Linked DNA regions of Homo sapiens: all the other regions are reported to be linked to region 4. Evidence: microRNA targets listed by miRTarBase, many of them from high-throughput screens and not tested one by one. Region 4 holds a microRNA gene; each other region holds the end of a gene's coding sequence.
Evidence for each region. The annotated mature microRNA hsa-miR-6797-3p reads UGCAUGACCCUUCCCUCCCCAC and lies in region 4 at 3,686-3,707, shown strand. An mRNA with a match to its seed (bases 2 to 7 or 8) in the 3' UTR can be bound and repressed. Matches are read on the target gene's strand: a 7mer-m8 pairs with bases 2 to 8, a 7mer-A1 pairs with bases 2 to 7 and ends in A, and an 8mer does both.

Region 1 (5,419 bases), not on the chromosome of region 4:
CATTGGTTTTACTAATAATGTGCCATTATATAAAGATGATCGCCAGTTTAAACCTGTTTTATTAGGTTGTCCCCAAACTTCTTAATGTCTCAAGGTCTGTTAGGTGCTTTCTGTTTTCTTTTCTGGGTTTCTTTTTTCTTTCCCTTTCTCCTTTCCCCTTTCCTTTTCCTCCTTCCTCTTCCCCTTTCCCTTTTCCCTTTCCTCTTCCCCTTCCCCCTTTCCCCTTTTTCCTCTTTCCCCTCTTTGCCTTTCCCTTTTTTTTTTTTCTTTCCCTTTCCCTTTTGACAAAGTGCCCAGGCTGGATGCAATCACAGCTCACTGCGACCTGCACCTCCTGGGCTGCAGCAATCCTCCCACCTTAGCCTCTGGAGTAGCTGGGATTACAGGCGCAGACCACCACACCTGGCTAATTTTTGTATTTTTTGTAGAGCTGGGGTTTCAACCGTGTTGCCCAGGTTGGTCTCAAACTCCTGAGCTCAAGCGATCTCACCCGCCTTGGCCTCCCAAAGTGCTGGGATTACAGGCGTGAGCCTGGCCTGCTTTCTGTTTTCAAGCCTTACTAAATATAATAAATAGGGTAGGGTTCTGTCTCATACATATCTGTATTCCTGATAAGCTAGCGTAGCATAGTTTCTGGCTCTTGGTAGGTACTCAGTAAATATTCATGGAATAAATAAGAAAGAAGGATTTGGAGTATTAGAATTAATTGTGACATAAGTTAACTTACAAGCCTCCAAATTATCAGGTAGGCCTAGGATTGATTGGTCATTTATATGGAGATTTTTTTTTTTAACTTCATTTCTGAAGAAAAGATTTGATGCTGCTGAAATGTCAGAATTAAGAGTATAATTTTGGGCCTGAAACTGAAGCTCTTTTCTAAGAATTGACTGTCCAGTGCAAAAATTAAACTCACATTCATTCGAAGAATCATTGAAGCTTTAGAATTTTATACATGAGGATACCAGCTTTTATAGTTACTCAATTGGTCAGTAGCTACACAAATCATCTAATTCTGAACTATCTGTGTGTGTGTGTGTGTGTGTGTGTGTGTGTGTGTGTGTGTATATGTATATGTATATACACACACACATACAGGTTTTTCTGCATGTACGTGATCCTCTAAAATAATGGTTGATGTTTATTAAGCTTTTCTCCCCCTCCCCTAAAGTAGAGTCGTGATCTATTTGACATGATTATTTAGGTACAAACTAGACTATTTAAAATAAACTGCTAATGGACTTTTAAATATGTTGGATAAGTTTCAAGAGGTGGGCAGTGTTTTTAAAGCTCAGTAGATCAGCATATGTTATAAAAAAGCAATTAAAAAATTTTAAAAGTCATGTGTGGCAGGGACTGGCTTCCTTTAGAGTTGGATTAATTTTTTTTTTCTTTAATAGCTACAGAATCCAGAAGTCAGATTTCAGCAACAACTGGAACAACTCAGTGCAATGGGATTTTTGAACCGTGAAGCAAACTTGCAAGCTCTAATAGCAACAGGAGGTGATATCAATGCAGCTATTGAAAGGTTACTGGGCTCCCAGCCATCATAGCAGCATTTCTGTATCTTGAAAAAATGTAATTTATTTTTGATAACGGCTCTTAAACTTTAAAATACCTGCTTTATTTCATTTTGACTCTTGGAATTCTGTGCTGTTATAAACAAACCCAATATGATGCATTTTAAGGTGGAGTACAGTAAGATGTGTGGGTTTTTCTGTATTTTTCTTTTCTGGAACAGTGGGAATTAAGGCTACTGCATGCATCACTTCTGCATTTATTGTAATTTTTTAAAAACATCACCTTTTATAGTTGGGTGACCAGATTTTGTCCTGCATCTGTCCAGTTTATTTGCTTTTTAAACATTAGCCTATGGTAGTAATTTATGTAGAATAAAAGCATTAAAAAGAAGCAAATCATTTGCACTCTATAATTTGTGGTACAGTATTGCTTATTGTGACTTTGGCATGCATTTTTGCAAACAATGCTGTAAGATTTATACTACTGATAATTTTGTTTTATTTGTATACAATATAGAGTATGCACATTTGGGACTGCATTTCTGGAAACATACTGCAATAGGCTCTCTGAGCAAAACACCTGTAACTAAAAAAGTGAAGATAAGAAAATACTCTTAAAGCTGAGTATTTCCTAATTGTATAGAATCTTACAGCATCTTTGACAAACATCTCCCAGCAAAAGTGCCGGTTAGTCAGGTTTGTTGAAAATACAGTAGAAAAGCTGATTCTGGTTATCTCTTTAAGGACAATTAATTGTACAGACACATAATGTAACATTGTCTCAACATTCATTCACAGATTGACTGTAAATTACCTTAATCTTTGTGCAGACTGAAGGAACACTGTAGTATACCCCAAAGTGCATTTGCCTAGGACTTCTCAGCTTCTCCCATAGGTAGTTTAACAGGCATTAAAATTTGTAATTGAAATGTTGCTTTCACTGAAAAAGTGTCTTGATGTTTCAGTTATTTTTAATCGCCATAAAAAAATAGAACTATCTTTTGGGTTTATCTGTTTTCTCATGCACAGGCAATACACAAATTTAAAATGAGTTGTGAGCCAATTGTTTCTGAAGTGTTTTGGTAGTTCTATTAAGAAATAGTTAAATATTGTGCTTTTCAGAGCCTCAGAGAAAGGGGGACGGGGTGGGGGGGTGGGGCAGCGGAATCTGTCCTGGATGGGGCCAGCTTAAATAATACTGGCAACCAAGATTCTGTTAGGATTTCTGTGCATATAGTGTAGTAAAGAAGTATCATTCAGGGGTGAAAAACAAAGAGCCGTTTTAATGATGTTGAGTACATTTGGCTGTTTTATAGCCTTTTTCTTCCCTCCCCCAAAGAATTCTGTTTGCCTAACTCCCAAACTGTTGGGGTGGTACATTCCTTTAGGACCAATTAAAACATAATTGAGGGTCAGTGATACATTTGGCTGACTCTGGTTCAGTATTCTCTTAGGTGATTATATTCTCTCATGTACAGTTACAGGAAATTAAAATGTTAAAGTAACCTAAAATGAATTCAGACCAATAAAATCAAGGGAAATACAAGTTGATTGCATTACTTCTGTATGTTGCTTGCTATTAAAAAGGTTAAGAGGCCAGGTTACCCACCAGTCCTTGCACTGTTCTGACACTTTCCCCAGGAGGAAAACAAGTACAAAGGTTACGGTGGAGGCATAAGTAGAAGAGATTGTTAAGAAGGGTATTCATGTGTCTTTGCTCTTTCTGCTTTATGCCTCAGTTTGGTTTAAAAACTTCTGTACTGGCAAATGGTGGTATTCAGTGTGGGATAGTGTCATAACTAATTTGACAATTTATTAATCATAAAATAACAATAAATCTCTAGCTTTTACACTTGATTTGTCTTGCCTCTTTTGTAGAAAGAAAAAAAGTCTTTAACTTTTGCTAACCATGTGTTTTAAAGGCTATTGGAGTTGATTTACCCCAGATTTTGTCACATTTTACATTCTTTATTTTTCAGGTTTTCCAATTAAAACGTCACAGTCTTTTGTGGTGTGATAAAAAGATAGCACACTGGGAAGGTAGGTGACTTGAGCTCCACTTTTGATCTTGGTACTTGACTAGTTATGTGACATTGAGGCGTCATGGTTTCTTTATTATACATGTGGTGGTGAGGCTTATAGGTGTGCTGGACTGGGCGATAAGCTCTGAAGTACCTTTAAGCTACTGCAGTGGTATGGTTTTTGTTTTTAATATGTTTATTTAGGTCTAAGTCTAAAGATAAATATCTACATCTTAAGGGGTTCAAAATACTTAAAATTCTTATCAGCACTTAAAGGATGTTTAAAATACTGTAGGCTTAAATTGTTCTCATATTGAGTGATAATATTTAGTACAAATTGAATAAAGAATGGGGTAGTGAAAATAGCATTTCAGGATTTTATTTCCCAGTTATAATATTTGCGATATCCTAAACAAAGTCTAGCAAATATTGAAAAATCAGATAAATGACACCTGGCCTCTGTGTGTATTTAGAATCTTGAGTTTCAGACTTGGTTTAAATATAATAATGAAAAGAGTCTTTTATTCTTACTATGTTAATTTAATAGGCATATATCACAACAAAATATAACAATGGATAACAATATGCTAGTGACAAAAGTGAAGCTAAGCCGTGTGTGCAATGACATACACATGATTAACAAAAAAAAATGACTCTGTGATTAATGCAGGGAAATACTGCATATTGTACTTCTTCTCATAGAGATTAATATTATATTACAATTAACAGGAAGTCTTGCATGAAAGAAGTCTATTTAAAGTTTTATCAGCTTTTTCCAGTCTCACTAGACCATCTTTTAACTATTCTTTAAGGTGATGCTGTATACAATGAACACCCTTCCTATACTTCGTGTATCTACCCTTCTCTGGTGTCGCACATGGTATTTATCTACTTTGGCTCCTATAAACCCTACCATTCTTTCTGGGCTCAGTTCTGAAGGCGTCCTAAACTTTGCTGATCCAGTGTTTGGGAAACTCTTAACTGTTCATACTTAGTCTTTACTGTCAATTGCTGCATTTTGCTCCCCCCATTCACCTTGTAGCATTTTGTTTTGTTTTTTATTTTTCTGCTCTAAAATTGTCTTGGCAATTACCTAAGTAACATCAGTTGTTCCTCTTCAACTTCTCTGTATCTTTTCTCATAGGCAACTATTATGTCAGAAAGTCAAATTATTGAACATCTACTGAGTGCCAGGTTCTTTTCCAGTTGCTCAGAGTATAGCAGCAAATAAAACAAGATTGTGTCCACATGGGGTTTACATAGTAGAATGTAGGGAGATAGGAAAACATACAGATTGCCTGCCAGGTAATCAGTGCTTTGGTGAAAAATGCTGCATAGTGGGGAGACCAGGTCAGGAAGGTGGCGTTCTTATTTTATATAAGGTTGTCAGAGAAAGCCTCAGCTCATTGAGGAGGTGACATTTGAACAGAGACTTGAGTATCTGGAGGGGTGAACAACTTTTCCAGGAAGAAGGACAACTAATTAAAAGGCCCTGAAATAGTGTCCTTGAGTGTATGTCAACCTAAAGGGAAGAAGCTGAGGCACAAAATATAATTTCGAAAGAGTTTACTTGAGCCAAAGTGAGAACAGCTGCCAGGGACCCATTTCAGGTTGCCTTGGGGAGTACTCTGTTTGGTACAAGCAGGTTTTTAAAGGCAAAGGGGAACAAGGAGTGGGCTGATAAAAGTTTTGACAGGTATTCTCATTGGTTTCCAGAGATAATATTGATTAGCCATTGGCTGTACGCTGTTGAACATAGGGTAAAAGTTATGATGTCTACTATATGACATCTTAATGGCTACTTGGTGTCATTCCAGAGCCCACATAGTCATTTGCTTCAAGAGGTAATTATTTAGCTCAAGAGGGAATGAGACGTGACTG
Region 2 (5,419 bases), not on the chromosome of region 4:
TTTGGAAAATCTTTGGCACTATGTCAAAGATGGTTGGAAATTTACTAAAGCTAGCAGACCAAAAAACAAAACAAAACAAAACAAAAAGACTTAATTTATTAGGACTGCAGTGGTGATGTGTTGTCACTTCAGGACACCCCACTACCTGAATTGCAGCAGTGTTGCGAATCATCACTCTGCAGTGAATGGGAATTTTTGGTTTAGAGTTTAACAGATTTTCCTGGTCTTTCTCCTAGCGACTGACACAGAAATACGAAAGAATAAAATGATTCCAAAAAAAAAAAAAACACCTACATTAACCATTTGGGGGTAAAAACGATGAAAATGTAAAGGCAAATGATGAATTTATCAAAAAGAATGAAGGAACAGATAGCATATGTATGTAGGAACACAGTAGCTTTAAAATATCAGAAAGATGAAGGACAGAAATGCCAAGTGAAGCAGAGGGTTTCTACATTTGTCTTCTGCTTTTGCATGTCCCACATTCCCTTATGTAATAGATCTTTAATGGATTCCCTACTGTCACAGAACCTTTATAAGACCAGCCTATGGAGAATGCAAAGGAACTAAATAATGGACAGTTAACGTTCTGGAAAAGCAATTTATTATCTTGCTAGGAGCTGGCTTCTCATTGCATTTAGAATAAACTTTAAACAGCTATATCATCTTCCAGGCCTGATATGATCTGGCCCCTGCAAACTTACCTTCACATCTTCCACTCCCATCCTCATTCTTCAGGCTCTAGCTACACTGGCTTTCTTTCATCCTTGGACTTTCTACACTGGTTCTTTCTGCAAGGCTTTGCACTGCCATGCTCTCTCTCTGGAATGCTTTTCCTTTGACTAAATTTTTCCATGTAATTCAGGTCTTAGTTCAATTTTAATCTCCCCTAAGAGATTTCCCATCCTATCTAAAGCAGTCTATGCCCTTCCCTATCCCTAGGTCCCGCAATCACATTACCTAGTTAGATTTCCTTCAAACCTCTTGAAATTCCCTTATTTATTCTTTTGAGTTTTTTTCCACTTCACCTTCCCCATAGAACATGAGCTCCTCAGTGTCAGGGGTCTTCTGTTTCGTTCACTGCTATATCCCCAACACCTAGAATAGAACATGACACACAGTGAGCCATGAATGAATGAGAAAGAGTACAGGACTCACAGTGGAACTGCCTATGAACAAAAGGAATACTGGACAAAAAGAAATGGACTAGGGAAGAAAATCAGGAAGAAGAGGAACAAAGAATGGGGTCTAGGGACTGAGAATTGGTTATAGTGTACAATTTTAGCCCCTATAAAAAAGTTTTTTACATGCATTCCAAGCAGAGGGAATGGCAAGTGCTAAGAGGAAGTCTTTCCATCACTACACACAGCTGTTTTTTACTTTGTTGTTGTTAGTGGTTTTGTTTTCAGTGTGTGTGTTGGGAGTGGGGGGAGGATGGGTGTGAGGGATCTCTGCGTGTTTCTCTCAGGGGAAGGCTGGGTTTTCTCTTTCAGCCTACAGGTGTTGCTGCATGTTCTTGGGGTGGCCAATGGAGCACTAGACAGGAATACCACCCATGGCAGCTCTGCAACTTATTCTAAGACTTTTAGGGCAAGAGGCAGGAAAGAGTGAAGGAATGATCACCACATTGTACCAGGGGTATACCAGTGAGAGGTAAGATGATCTGGGTGGTAGCAGTGACCCCCACTTTTTTTACCCAGAAAAAGATGGATAAATGCTCTGACATTGCTGTGACCCAGGGATCTGTGGCCATGGTTGCTTGTGCAGGCAGCAGCCAATACTTCTGAATGGCTCCCTTGGGACTACAAAACTGTGTGTGGGCGCAGGGAGCCCATACTATTTGCCACATCAGAAAAATCCATTCATGAAAAGGAAAGACAGAGAATGATAAAAGTCTTCTCAGAAAGCCTTAGCAAAATGGGTGCTTTTATTTTCACAGACATGTCTATGCAATACACTCAGTCACAAGAGAGAGCTTCTTAAGCCTGACCATAATTTAAACTCTGAAAGGTGAGTGAGCCTGTTAAGAGACCTCCACCCTTCTAGTAACCTATATCCCTTGATATGGGAAGGATATCTTAGTTCTCCCTAGCCCCTTGCTTAGGATTAAGTGAGAGACTTCAGCTTTGGTGTAAAGCTGTCAGCTGCCCTAATCAAGGACAATACACAAAAATTAGACTCCTTATAAGAATAAGGGATTAAATGGAGGAAGATCTAGAAGTGGGTGGGAACAAAAGAGCAGAACTGAGCCTGCATCTGCAGAAAATGTCCAAAGACAACTGGCAGAGTTCACTCCATGGGGAAAAGGCATGTTAGTGTGTAGGTAGAGAAACTGGACAAGGAAGGATGGCCTTAGCCTTCCATAATGGAGAAGTCGGGCAGGGGATGTCTGCATGCAATAGACAACTGAATTAGAAAGAGCAGAAATGTAAACCAGCAGTGCTTCCCTATCTTGGGCCTGGCTAGCTTAAAGGGGCTCTACTGTCATTGGTCAAAAAACTTTCATGAGGAGATCCAATCACTAATGCAACAAACTCTAATGAGTTCTAAGTTGGAGAGAGCTCAGTTCTAAAGCTTGGGGGTAGACAGGTCACTGAGAGAGGAGGAATGAAGGAGTGGGATCTGAACATTGTAATAAGTCATCTAGTAGCTCTGATCACTTTGGACATTGCTGGGGGATACATAACAGCTCACTATAACATTACAACACATACTTATATCTGTTTGCTCCTCCAAACTAACATGACAATGTGTTTCTGCCATCTTAGCTTACAGAGACATGATCTAGTTCAGCTTATACTCAGATTTTACAAAAGAGACTTTGACCACATAGATATTCATAAAATTAATGTGGTTAAGAAAAAAGTGCAGGGGCTTGAAGTCAGAAGAGCTCCGTTCCCATTTTGGCTATGCTGCTGTTCAGGTTTGTGACCTGCAGAGCAGTTTAGCATCTCTGGGTCTCAATTTGTTCATCTGTAGAGCGTGGGTGATCAACCTTTATGTAATCCTTCTGTGTTGAGTGGGTCTCAAGATGGAAGCTCACTATGGGAATTTAAAAGCAAACTGTGGCATCGAAACAAACTGGACAATTGCTTGAACTCTAATATCATCATCCATCCTCATAAAGTAACTTGTTGGTCACTAGTCTGACAGTACTGTTAAAAGACATTTATTTGTAACTTTTGAGAAAATAATTTTCAGACTCTGATCTTAGAATAAGCTCATGAGGAGTCTCATTTCCAAGCTGGAGATCATTTCCAGTTTGAATGAACAATTCTTCTTTTTGGCTTGGGTGAACGTGGGGATAGGTGAAAGCTGAGCTGCACATCCTTCAGAGGTCACAATGAAAAGTCAGTCTTTATTCTAGCAGGGCTTGGTCATCTGGAATAGCTGGTACATAGGTGGCAGCTCCATGCCCTATCTCATACTTTAAACAACATCACCAATATCTTTTTCCGAAATAAGCTTGAGTTGTATATGTTTATTATAGGAGAGAAAAGTTTGCCAAGCGTCTTCTATGGACTAAGCACTTGCTAGGTGTTTTACATATATTCTGCCATTTAATCCTCAAGGCAACTTTAACATGTAAGTATTACTGTCCTCATTTTACAGGTGAAGAAATTGAGACCCAGAGTGATTATATGACCTGCCCAAGGTGGTCACGTCGTTAGGCCATGGCAGAGATCTGAAATAAAAGGTCAGGTCTTCTGACTTCAGTCCATGATTTTTTTTTTTTTTTTTCTATAACATCATGCTACCTAGAAGAAAAAGAAATGAAGGTAAGCAGTCAGCCAGGAAAGTCAGGAAAAATGATATGCTACTTGTAAAGAGCTCCCCTATATTGTATCATTCTGAAATGTCCAATTTTCAAAGAGTCAGAGTAGTACAGAAATGTTCAATGTTAAATCACTACTCAACATAAGCAATCTGACTTTGATGGTTCACAAGCTCTTCCAGATCTTGTCGTGCCTTAAAGTTCTCACTAACAATATCAATTATCAGTGCACTACAGATATATAGGAAAAGAAAATCCCAGGTAACAGAAAAGCCAGATCACCTGCCTCCAAGATGCCGGGCACTGCACGGCTTTTATCAGTTTTTATTACATCAGGTCAAGGAAACAAATGGAATCTATCCACATGGTCCTGCCTCGTTGGGCATATATTCTAAACATACATCCATTTTCATACCCAATGAGAAAGAACTCAATTCCAAAGGATCTCACCTTTCACAAAATTCTACCCTTAAGATCCTAAAACAGTCATATCACTGTGCACAAAATTTTTGGCAGTCACAAGCTCTAACACAAAGCAGAGCTTAAAAACAAATGGAGAATATAATCAGTGTTCAAATGCACCCTCACTGGGTGGGTCAGACTGCATGAGGCAGTGTGGCTGTGTGGAGGGAGAGGTCCGGACCTGTGGCAAACTGCTGCTCCTGCCAGGAGGCTACCAAAGCCAAGGCTCTTAACATATTGAGGTTCCTCAGCTGCCCCAGTGCCTATATCTCTAACAACAGTAAACAGTGAAATACCTGCAGGCAACCATGTCTAAATAAAGAGATAAATATTTGAATCTTCAAGAAGTGGCCAACTTCAGAAAGGCATCTCTTGGCACCCTAGAGGAGACTGGGATGAAAGTTGTACCGGAGACTGGAGAAGAGCCCGATGTGTTTCACGAGGTTCGGCTCCACTACATAGGCCCTCTCTCCCTTGGCCCTCAACAGCGAGTACAGTGCCATGTCCTTGCCAAAGCCCTTGTGGCAGTACACTTGGGACAGGTAGGTGAGGGTCCGGCGGGCCGCAGGTGCCGGGAAGAGCATGGCTGGGGTGCAACACTGAGAGGCAGGAACCACACTGTACAGGGAAGGACTCAGCCGCCGCAGTTCCAGGAAATAGTGCCGACCCACCAGCTCCACCAGACCCATGCTATACAGGGAGAAGAAGAGCATTACAGGCCAGCTAAACCCTGGGCGGCTGGCAAACCTCATGTATATCCAGGTTAGTAAGGGCCCCAGCAACATGCCTACACCAACCCATTCCAGGATCCGCATGGGCTCTGGATTGATGTAGTGCTGGAGCCTCTCGGGGTGATACAGCTTGAGATAAAGGGCATCTCTGAGATGTGGCTCAGAGAAGCGAGCCCGCAGAAGGTGCTCCAAGACTGGGAAGATCTGCTCTTCTGGTACAGCATCGTCTTCTACCATCAGGACGTAGTCTGGGTTGTAGGTCTGCAGGGATGACTCCAGGCAATAGACATAGTCCTGCTTCTCTTTCTCAAACGAGTTGGTCGAAGGGTCATCACCATAATCATCCTCAGTGCCCTCATAGCGATTGGCCACAGGGACATACTTGGAGAGCAACTTGGCATCAAAATGGCTCACACTACGCTCCACGTTGCACAGGAAGAGTTGGTGCCCC
Region 3 (5,240 bases), not on the chromosome of region 4:
CTTTAACAATCGTTTGTCTTTCAAAGCCAGTGGAACAAAAAATTAATCAAATAAGAATGCTATCTTTACCTATAAAGAAAATGAGAAATTTGGACAAATTGCCTAATATCGTGTTAGTCACTTATAACCATGCTGCTTCCTTCTCCTATGGCACTGAATTGTTTGCTGCATCAGGTATGAAAAGTGAGGTCAAGCTGGGTAGGAGAGTTGTATAGACAGGTGTACAACACTTTGTATAGTGAAATATGCCTCGTATGATGCTATCAGTCTAATTCTTTATCCCCTTTTGCAAAATGGGACCCAATGGGAACTTGTTATTTCTTATATAACAAGTGGCCTTACTTTCTTAAAAATAAAGTAGCACTTTCTTTAGGACAATCCTTAGAATGAAAACACCATCTTTTTTTCCCCCAGTATTCCCAATATTAAGCAAACAGAAATCCAACCTATCAAAACACAAAAGAGCATTTGTTATTTGGGGTTGTCTGGTATTTTAAGCCTAGAAGGCACTAGAAGTGTTCATTACCACAGCAGGGTCACTACATTCAGTAAGTATCAACAAACAAATTCTACATAAAAAAAGAGAGAGAGAAAAAAGCAAATTTAACATTTATTTATTTATTTTGGAGATAGCACCTTGCTCTGTCACCCAGGCTGGAACGCAGTGGTGTGAATATGGCTCACTGAAGCCCCAACCTCCTGGGCTCAAGCAATCCTCCTGCCCAGTCTCCTGAGTAGCTGGGACCATAGGTACATACCACCATGCCCAGCTCATTTTTTTCTTTTTAATTTTTTTCATAGAGATGGAGATCTCATCATGTTGCCCAGGCAGGTCTCAAACTCCTGGGCTCAAGCAATGCTCCCACCTCAGCCTCCCAAAATGCTAGGATTATAGATGTGGGCCATCACACCCTGCCTACACTTGCCTTCTTGATGTTCCTAATTAGTTCCCATTCTGATCCTATTTCACTTGGTCATTTCCACTATCTTCCAGTCACTTGGTTTTTCTGGTAGGAACTTTTTTCTATGCTAAACAGTTTTAATGATAAAAAGGATATTAAGAAATAAGGTAAGATTACTGGGAGATTTAAACTGTTACCTGATAGTGGTCCTTTTACAAACAGAACTCTACTACCCAATCATGCCAAGTTTTGGCCATTTATGAACGTTCATGTGAATTCACAGAGGGCAGTTAATCCATCTGTGTAGAAATATAAGCAATCCCTTTTCTCCTGCCTCTGAAGAAAAGGAAGAGGAGTACAAAAAGGCAGGAATAAAAGATACTGATCTACTTTTAGCTCTAATTACAAAACCGAGAACTATTTCATACCTTGTCTTAGAACAGTTAATTCATGATTGGTGATGAGACCACAGAGGTAATAAATCTGAAAGTGCTCAAGACTTGTTAGTAGCTCATTGAAGCTTTGAAGCTACAAGTCATTCTCATCTTTTGCATTCTCATAATTTAACATAAGGTGAATCCAGCACTTTTCCAAAATGCCAAAGCCATTTTGGAAAACAGCTCTTGAGGACTCAAGACTGAAGTAGGACAACACATATGAAGGGCTCTGACACATTCTGGAAGCTTTGAGTCCATTTCTACTACCTTCTAGGTTAGACAGCTTGGATGGTGAAATCTTTCCAGATTTAAATTTTAGCTTGGAGTAAACAAGCAAGCAAGCAAGCCAAAAAAACTCCTCCAATTCAATCTAAAGTGTAATTCAACTTGGTGTACATCTTCTGTACATGCTCATTCAGCACATCTTCTGGCTTCCAGTCAGATATGTCTTAATTCATGTTGAAAATCTAAAGATGAATGTCAAAACCCTGATATTTATTGTACTGGCCCAGTTCCTAACCTTTACTGAGTCAACTTAGTGTGCCAGGCAACATACTAAGTTCTGGCATCACATACAGTATAGTATTTAATCCTCAACATAACTCAATGACAAAACCGAAGCTCAGAGATGAGAACTGCTAGTCCCATTTAAGTACAGAAGAGCTCAAGGAGCAAGAGTCCAAATGAATATAGTCCATCCCAAATTAAAACAGAATCTTTCATTGCTTATTTTAAAATATAGTCCTAGGCACTGGGCTCAGTGGCTTACGCCTGTAAATCCCAGCACTTTGGGAGGCCGAGGTGGGTGCATCACAAGGTCAGGAGTTCGAGACCAGCCCGGCCAACATGGTGAAACCCCATCTCTACTAAAAATACAAAAATTAGCCAGGCATGGTGGCATGTGCCTGTAATGCCAGCTACTTGGGAGGCTCGGGCAGGAGAATTGCTTGAACCCAAGAGGCGGAGATTACAGTGAACTCAGATTGCGCCACTGCACTCCAGCCTGGGCGAAAGAGTCTCTGTCTCAAAAAAAAAAAAAAAAAAAAAAAAAAAAAAAAAAAAAAGAAAAAAAAAAGTGATGGGCACATGGTAGGTACTCAGTGAAACATACAGTGAAAAACAAAAACAGTGGGCCAAAACCCAACTGAGTTTTCTTTCAAAGCACGTGAAATGAAAAGTCCTTGTTACAGCAGAGACTATAAATTCATGCTCCAAAATGAAATCAATTTTACCCCATCACTATGAGTGCCGATGTCTTCTTGCAGGAAAAAAGAAAGAAAAAAGGAATAGTTGAAGCAATGTTGAGAAATCCAACCAGTGTACCAACGTGGATTTCTTTATACCTACGATTCAAACTGGAGCTAATCGTTTTTCTGGGCTTGTTGGTTCTATTAAGAAAATTTCTTTAGCCTTCACTTGAGTAATTTTATTTTCTATTTATTTGAGATGGAGTCTTGCTCTGTCCCCTAGGCTGGAGTGCACTGGCAAGATCTTGGCTCACTGCAACCCCCATCTCCCAGGTTCAAACAATATTCCCACCTCAGCCTCCTGAGTAGCAGGGACTACAAAAGCACGTCCCACCACACGTGGCTAATTTTTGTATTTTTAGTAGAGATGGGTTTTCACCATGTTGGCCAGGCTGGTTTCAAACTCCTGACCTCAAATGACCTGCCCACCTTGGCCTCCCCAAGTGCTGGGATTACAGACATGAGCCACCACACCTGGCCCACTTAAGTAATTTTAAATTTAAAGCCCAAGATAGAATGATATGAGGCTATGTTTTATTCAACCTCTATAGAAAACAAATAGCTTTTTATTCTATTTAGTAGTTTGAAATGACAGCCCTAACAAAATTTTCTTCATCCTGAAAATTTCCAAACTTCTTATAACTTACCCCTAATTTTGGGACTGCAGCTTAAGTGTATTAGATTAAACACCATAAAAAGCTGCAAGACGCTCTTTTAAGGGAAGAGGAAACTGGTCAGAGAAACGCCTCCAATTTTCATCGCCAACTTGATTTTTAAATCCATGAAGGATCTGTAAGAGTGAAAAACCATTAATTTATCAATAACAAGAGAAAAATTCAGATCAGCATAGCTTCTGAAATCCAACACAGCTGATTTTTTTATAAATTTTATCCATTTTAAAGTAGCAATTCTCAAACTTCGTAGGATTCTACACCATTCCCTGCTAATATGGTCTGGCTCTGTGTCCCCACCCAAATCTCATCTTGAATTGTACTCCCATAATTCCCACGTGTTGTGGGAGGGACCCAGTGGGAGATAACTGAATCATAGGGGTAGTTTTTCCTATACTCTTCTGGTGGTAGTGAATAAGTCTCATGAGATCTGACGGTTTGATAAGGGGAAACCCGTTTCACTTGATTCTCATTCTCTTTCTTGCCTGCTGCGATTTAAGACTTGTCTTTCACCTTCCACCATGACAGTGAGGCCTCCCCAACCACATGGAACTGTGAGTCGAATTAAACCTCTTTCTTTTGTAAATTACCCAGTCTTGGGCATATCTTTTTGTGTGTGTGGCGGGGACAGAGTTTCACTCTTATTGCTCATGCTGGAGTGCAACGGCATGATCTTGGCTCACTGCAACCTCCACTTCCTGGGTTCAAGCGATTCTCCTGCCTCAGCCTCCTGAGTAGCTGGGATTACAGGCATCCGCCACCACCCCTAGCTAATTTTTTGTATTTTTAGTAGAGATGGCGTTTCACCATGTTGGCCAGGCTGGTCTTGAACTCCTGACCTCAGGTGATCCACCTGCCTCGGCCTCCCAAAGTGCTGGGATTACAAGTGTGAGCCACTGAGCCCGGCCCTTGGGCATATCTTTATCAGCAGCGTGAATATGGACTAATACACGTGCCTTGCCTAAAAGTACCTCATAGCATATGCTTAAACTCTGCTTTGAGAAGTTTAGACTTTGGCAAGTGTTCCAGTAACAGATATACTCTAAGCAATCTCTGATACCATACTAACGAAAAGATAAAGTAGAGAAGTCATCCAAGCAATACAATTTTTATGTCGTATTTTTTCAAACTGCAAATACACAAGCTTTGAGTTCACGACAAACTATAGTTCACTAACTTTAATCTTGGGTGATTCAAATGTGTAACTGCATTTTATTTTTTACTGTGGTTGAGTACTGACGAGTTAATCAAAAGAGGGTATTAACAAAGCAAATAATGACATGGGCTTACTCCTGTGGCAGCCATTTAGATTTACTCTTTTTCAGATTATACTCCAAGTCTCCATTTCCATCTTGAAAAACATATACTATTTTCCTTAAATGGAATAATGGGACCACCTAAACTAGTGGTACACTTGGGAAAATACTTTCAAAGTGCATCCTCTACAGATAAGAGTCACTGCTGTATTTTAAGAAAAGATCAAGCCAACTTTGTTACCAAGAATAAAGGTTATATATGTAAACTATCAATACTGACTTGAAGAGCCTAACTTTCACAAAAAATGTAAACATAATTTAAAGTTTTCCACTAGGATATTAACAGTCTCAAGATGATGCATTATAAAGACTTATTAGTTACCTTACAGAACATGTCTCTGAGATCATCTTTTGGGTTAATCCATGATGCAACGGCATCACAAAAAAATATAAAATCCTGTAACAAGCAAGAAATACATCTTAGGTTGATATTGTATTTGTCAAACTCAGCAAAAGATATATGTAAACCTCAGAGTTTATGTCACAATAGAATCTAGCTTAAAAAAGGAAACATTTAAAAATTAACTATGATCATAAGGAATTAGAAGAGATTACCTTAATGGCTGTCCCTATTAGCCCACAGTCAAGGAACCTCAACTCATTCAGTTTATACTGGACTTTAATGTCCTGCATCACACAACAAAATAACCCCCTGTGCAATAAATGT
Region 4 (5,419 bases):
ATGCCTGTAATCCCAGCACTTTGGGAGGCCGAGGCGGGCGGATCAGGAGGTCAGGAGTTTGAGACCAGCCTGGCCAGCATGGTGAAACCCCATCTCTACTAAAAATACAAAACATTAGCCAGGTGTGGTGGCGTGTGCCTGTAGTCCCAGCTACTCGGGAGGCTGAGACAGGAGAATTGCTTGAACCTGGGAGGCGGAGCTAGCAGTGAGCCCAGATGGCACCACTGCACTCCAACCTAGGCAACAGAGAAAGACTCCGTCTCAAAAAAAAAATAAAGCAGGATAACAGGAAAAGCTATTCTGCGTTCCCCAGTCCTGGGTACTGTAGTTCAAATGGGAGAGCAGGTCTCCACCCAGAGCCCCAGGGCACAACCAGCTACAGGGCCCAGAGGGATGGCAGCAGCTGCTGGGTATTTGAGCTGGTCTGAAAGGGTGGAGGTTTCCAGTGATGTCACTCTCTGGCAGGATTGTGGGGGGTGGCTTACGCCAGGTGAGTCTGTCTATTGGTCCTGGTTATGGGCACTTATTACCAGGCAGTGGCGTAGGGGGTAGGGCCTGGAGTGAGGTGGGGATTTTAAAGTGAGCAGATGCCAGAGGTAGTGAGCCAACAGCAGGGCTGTGCTCTTGGCCCCCAGCAGAGCATGGTTGTATAGTATCAGCTGAGGATTGGTTCCAGGATGAACCCCAATACCCAAGTCCACAGATGCTCACCCTTACTATAAAATGGTGTAATATCGGGGCCAGGGGCCGGGTGCGGTGGCTCAACCCTGTAATCCCAGCACTTTGGGAGGCCAAGGCAGGTGGATTACGAGGTCAGGAGATTGAGACCATCCTCGCTAACACGGTGAAACCCCGTCTCTACTAAAAATACAAAAAAATTAGCCAGGCGTGGTGGCGGGCCCCTGTAGTCCCAGCTACTCTGGAGGCTGAGGCAGGAGAATGGAGTGAACCCGGAAGGCAGAGCTTGCAGTGAACCGAGATTGCGCCACTGCACTCCAGCCTGGGCGACAGAGCGAGAGACTCCATCTCAGAAAAAAAAAATATCGGGGCCAGCACAGTGGCACACACCTGTAATCCCAGCACTTTGGGAGGCCAAGATGGGTGGTTCACTTCACTCCAGGAGTTCAGCCAGAGCAACATGGCAAAACCGGGTCTCTTCAGAAATTATCTGGGCGTGGTGGCTTGCACCTGTAGTCCCAACTATTCAGGAGGTCAAAGCTGCAGTGAGCTGTTACCACTGCACTCCAGCCTGGGTGACAGAATGATGCCCTGTCTCCAAAAAAAAAAAAAAGTATAATATTTGCATATATCCTATGTAGATGTTTTACTTTTGAGACAGAGTCTCACTCTGTCACCCAGTCTGGAGTGCAGTGGCATGATCTTGGCTAACTGCAACCTCTGCCTCCCAGGTTCAAGTGATTCTCCTGCCCTGCCTCAGCCTCCCAGGTAGCTGGGGTTACAGCGGGTGTGCCACCACACCTGGCTAATTTTCTTGTAATTTCAGTAGAGATGGGGTTTCACCATGTTGGCCAGGCTGGTCTCAAACTCCTGACCTCAGGTGATTCTCCCGCCTCAGCCTCCCAAAGTGGTGGGATTACAGGCGTGAGCCACTGCGCCCGGCCTGATCCCATATATTTTAAATCATCTGTAGATTACTTATAGATTAATACAGGCCAGACATGGCACATACTTATAGTCCCAGCTACTTAGGAGGCTGAGGCAAGAGGATTGCTTAAGCCCAGGAGTTCGAGGCTGCAGTGAGCTATGATCACACCACAGCACCCCAGCCTGGGTGACAGAATGAGGCCCTTTTTTTGTGTTTTAAGAAAAAAGAAAAAGCACTAATACGGTGTAAATAATTGTTACACTGTTTTGAATTGTAGTTTTTTTCCCCTAAATATTTTTGATCCACCCTTGGTTGAGTCTGTGGATATGAAGGGCTGGCTGTATCTGGACCTGATCTCAGGGCAGGAGTGGGCTGGGAACAAGCGGTGTGTAAGAACTGTTTCTGGGCAGAAGCAGCCCACCCCACACAGACTACTGCCTGGCACTTGGCAGTTATGGAAGAACCCCCAATTCCCCCACTTGATCTTTAGAACTAGAGGAAAGAAATCACTAGAGCAGACTCAGACCAACTTGCTGATCTCTGGGTCCCAGGAACAAACCAGACTCTGCTCTGAGCTCCAGAGCTAGGCAGGACCATGTGATGGCTGAAATCTGGGTGCTTCCTGCATGTGGGCCCCGGTGCCATCACAGTGGCAGGACAGGGCAGTTCCTCCAGAGCTGTGTGACACGGAGCCAGTGAGTACCCTCTGGCACCTCAGTTTCACTCTTTAAAGGAGAGTAGCACTTGACACACCTGTTGAGTCCTCAGAGTAACCCGGCCCTCAGGTGAAGAAGGGTGGAGAGATCGAAAAGCATTTGGCACAGGGCCTGGCAGATGTGTGCTCCAGTTAATAGAAGCGTGCAAGCGTTTCTGGGGAGGCTGGTGTGTCGACTGGATTTTACGGAGCTTTTTTTGCAGGCAAGGAGGCTGGCTGGGGTGGACCAGGGACTTGCCCAAGCCAGCCTTCCCTGTGTCTGCAGAGGGGCTGGTACACATTCCAAGCAGGGGGCACCCACTGCACAGAGTGTCTGCCCTGCCCTTGTTATCCTGAGCTCTCCAGACTGAGGTGGCCCGGAGAGTGGCAATAGGTCCCTTCACTCCTGCTTCTCTGGGGCCCATGGAGATGGTCACAGCTAGGCTCCACCCCTACATAACCTCAGGTTCAATTCAACAGCAGTGCTGCTGGGATAGTAACCACTAAAGAAGTTGGCCCTGGAGATGGTGGGAGTGCCCACCCAGGGTGCAGGGCTGTTTGTCAAGGAAGAGCTAGCCGGGGGGGTGGGTGAGGAGAGGGGGCTGTCAGTTTCTGGGTGTTAGTGTGTGTTTTCAGTTTCCCTTCTTATAAAACAGTGAGAATTAGCTGTTTACACACAAGGAATTGTTTACCTGAGACCTTGATCAAGACCCTTAAATCTCCCTCTCACACTACCCCCAGCTTCCACAGCGCGGCACCTGTACCTCCGGGGTGGCGCTGGGGTTGGCTCCATGACCAAGATCTATGGGGGACGTCAGAGAAACGGCGTCATGCCCAGCCACTTCAGCCGAGGCTCCAAGAGTGTGGCCCGCCGGGTCCTCCAAGCCCTGGAGGGGCTGAAAATGGTGGAAAAGGACCAAGATGGGTAAGCAGGGTAGAGGGGGCTGCATTGATGGAGTAGCCTTGAGGCCCGGTCATCAATTCCCCAACGAATGGTCCTGCATAGTCTGCCCAGCCCCTCAGGCCCCTCCTATCAGAGGCAGGCAGGAGGGGATTCTGCAGAAAAGCAAACAGCACGGGGCCTCACCCCGACCTCTCTGGCTGACTAGCCCAGGCTCCAGGAGGGTAATTTAGCGACTATCTGCTTTCATTAGCCTGCTCGTTAACTTTTCCCAATTGATTTTTCGGGGCTTTTGATCTAAATGCTTGCACAAACAACACCCCGTCAGCTCCCAGGGGGGCTCCCACTACTGCCCCCAGCTCGTTAGAATGCACCTGACTAGGGCCCTCAGTGGGACTTGGCTGGCGGCAGGTGGCTTTTTGAGAAGCCTGGCTCACAGCCAGGAGGGAAGGGGCTGAGAACAGGACCTGTGCTCACTGGGGCCTGCATGACCCTTCCCTCCCCACAGCGGCCGCAAACTGACACCTCAGGGACAAAGAGATCTGGACAGAATCGCCGGACAGGTAAGGCCTGCGTTTGGGGTGGGGCTGGGTCCCTTAGTCGCTGCCCAAGCATTTCCAAAGCCCATACTTTGTCAGGTAGACTTATTTCCTTCTCTGGAGGGCACAGCCCAGGGTGCTGGTGGGGTCAGAGGAGGGCTGCCCAGAGACAGGAGAAAGGACAGTCCTGTCTGACTTTTCCTGTTGGTGCTGCTTAGAAATTTGGAGGCAGGCTGGCTGTGGTGTCTCACCCCTGTAATCCCAGCACTTTGGGATGCCGAGGCAGGCGAATTATCTGAGGTCAGGAGTTCAAGACCATTCTGACCAACATGGAGAAACCCTGTCTCTACTAAAAATACAAAATTAGCCGGGTGTGGTGGCACATTCCTGTAATCTCAGCTACTGGGGAGGCTGAGGCACAAAAATCACTTGAACCCGGGAGGTGGAGGCTGCGGTGAGCCAAGATCATGCCATTGCACCCCAGCCTGGGCAACAAGAGTGAAACTCCATCTCAAAAAAAAAAAAATTGGAGGGAACTCCAGCCCAGGTGCCACTGGGCATCTATCCACAGAGCACATAGCTGTACCCGTAGATGACTCCCCCTCCCCAGGTCAGCCTGCGATGTTTCCCCTTAGTCCTCATGCGTACTGAGCATCACATGGGCTGCTTGGGAGAGGTGGAGATAAGGGAGGGGGGCTGGTTCAGAACCCAGGTCTCCATTCAGATCCTGGCTGGCCAACACCCTGGGGCAGAGTGGCCACACCCCTGGTGCCACAGTCTCCTGTCTTGGCCTCCCTGTGGCCAAAATCTACCCTTGGCCACCTCAAGCATGGTAGTGAGGAGTCAGTGAGCTATAGTACAGCAGGAGCACCCAGGGCCTGGCATGAGCTCAATTCTGTATCACTGACTCAGGCCTCCTAGGAGCCTTGGAGCATTTAGTCAGTCAAGTGTCACAAAAGAATGGAAAGTGTCAGCCCTCTAGGAGTTGGGGGTGGTCTGGAAGGAGAAAGCTCTTCCAGGCAGAGTGGGGCTTGGCGCACACATCATTGCTGGTGGTTGGATGTTGGCCTTCTCACATGGCAGTGGGCGGAATTTGGACTCCACTCCGCCACTCCCTTCCTTTTTTTTTTTTTTTTTTTTTTTTTTTTTTTGAGACAGAGTCTTGCTCTGTCGCCCAGGCTGGAGTGCAGTGGTGCAATGTCAGCTCACTGCAACCTCTGCCACCTGGGTTCAAGCAATTCTCCTATCTCAGCTTCCCGAGTAGCTGGGACTACAGGCACACACCACCACACCTGGCTAGTTTTTATATTTTTAGTAGAGACAGGGTTTCACCATATTGGTCAGGCTGGTCTCGAACTCTTGACCTCAGGTGATCCACCTGCCTCGGCCTTCCAGAGTGCTGGGATTAAAGGTGTGAGCCACTGTGCCTGGCCACTCCCTTGAGACTCAGTTTCCACGTCTGTGAAATGGGGGAATACCCACAGTGAGAATTAGATGAGATAGATGCATTTGAAACCACAAATCGGGGTGCCCACCTGTGGTGGGTAGTTAGGTAGCTGTTACAAAGTGCCCCAGCAGAGACCCCCTTGACTAACTTTTATTCTTCCATCTTTTCCCACAGGTGGCAGCTGCCAACAAGAAGCATTAGAACAAACCATGCTGGGTTAATAAATTGCCTC

Region 1: the mRNA of UBQLN1 is a reported target of hsa-miR-6797-3p. Seed matches in the 3' UTR shown: 7mer-A1 at 2,537-2,543.
Region 2: the mRNA of PGAP4 is a reported target of hsa-miR-6797-3p. Seed matches in the 3' UTR shown: 7mer-A1 at 4,378-4,384.
Region 3: miRTarBase lists TNPO1 as a target of hsa-miR-6797-3p. The part of its 3' UTR that is shown has no 7-base or 8-base seed match.

What each region holds. Positions count from the first base shown.
Region 1 is chr9:83,657,918-83,663,336 of GRCh38, reverse strand. It overlaps UBQLN1 (ubiquilin 1), which reads left to right. Exons shown (of 11, transcript NM_013438.5): 11 at 1,398-3,369. The coding sequence ends at 1,550. Among named protein-coding and RNA genes, the nearest start is that of IDNK, 37 kb to the right of the region's middle.
Region 2 is chr9:101,471,264-101,476,682 of GRCh38, forward strand. PGAP4 (post-GPI attachment to proteins GalNAc transferase 4) reads right to left here. Exons shown (of 2, transcript NM_032342.3): 2 at 1,907-5,419. The coding sequence ends at 4,618. The region is part of intron 1 of TMEM246-AS1 (TMEM246 antisense RNA 1); the gene reads left to right. Among named protein-coding and RNA genes, the nearest start is that of TMEM246-AS1, 5.5 kb to the left of the region's middle.
Region 3 is chr5:72,903,439-72,908,678 of GRCh38, reverse strand. It overlaps TNPO1 (transportin 1), which reads right to left. Exons shown (of 25, transcript NM_002270.4): 23 at 4,896-4,970; 24 at 3,234-3,376. The coding sequence ends at 3,269. Among named protein-coding and RNA genes, the nearest start is that of MIR4804, 27 kb to the right of the region's middle.
Region 4 is chr19:41,865,990-41,871,408 of GRCh38, forward strand. MIR6797 (microRNA 6797) reads left to right here and starts at 3,638; the gene lies at 3,638-3,709. RPS19 (ribosomal protein S19) reads left to right here. Exons shown (of 6, transcript NM_001022.4): 4 at 3,042-3,225; 5 at 3,710-3,764; 6 at 5,362-5,419. The coding sequence ends at 5,388. RefSeq lists a silencer at 454-513 and an enhancer at 3,486-4,044.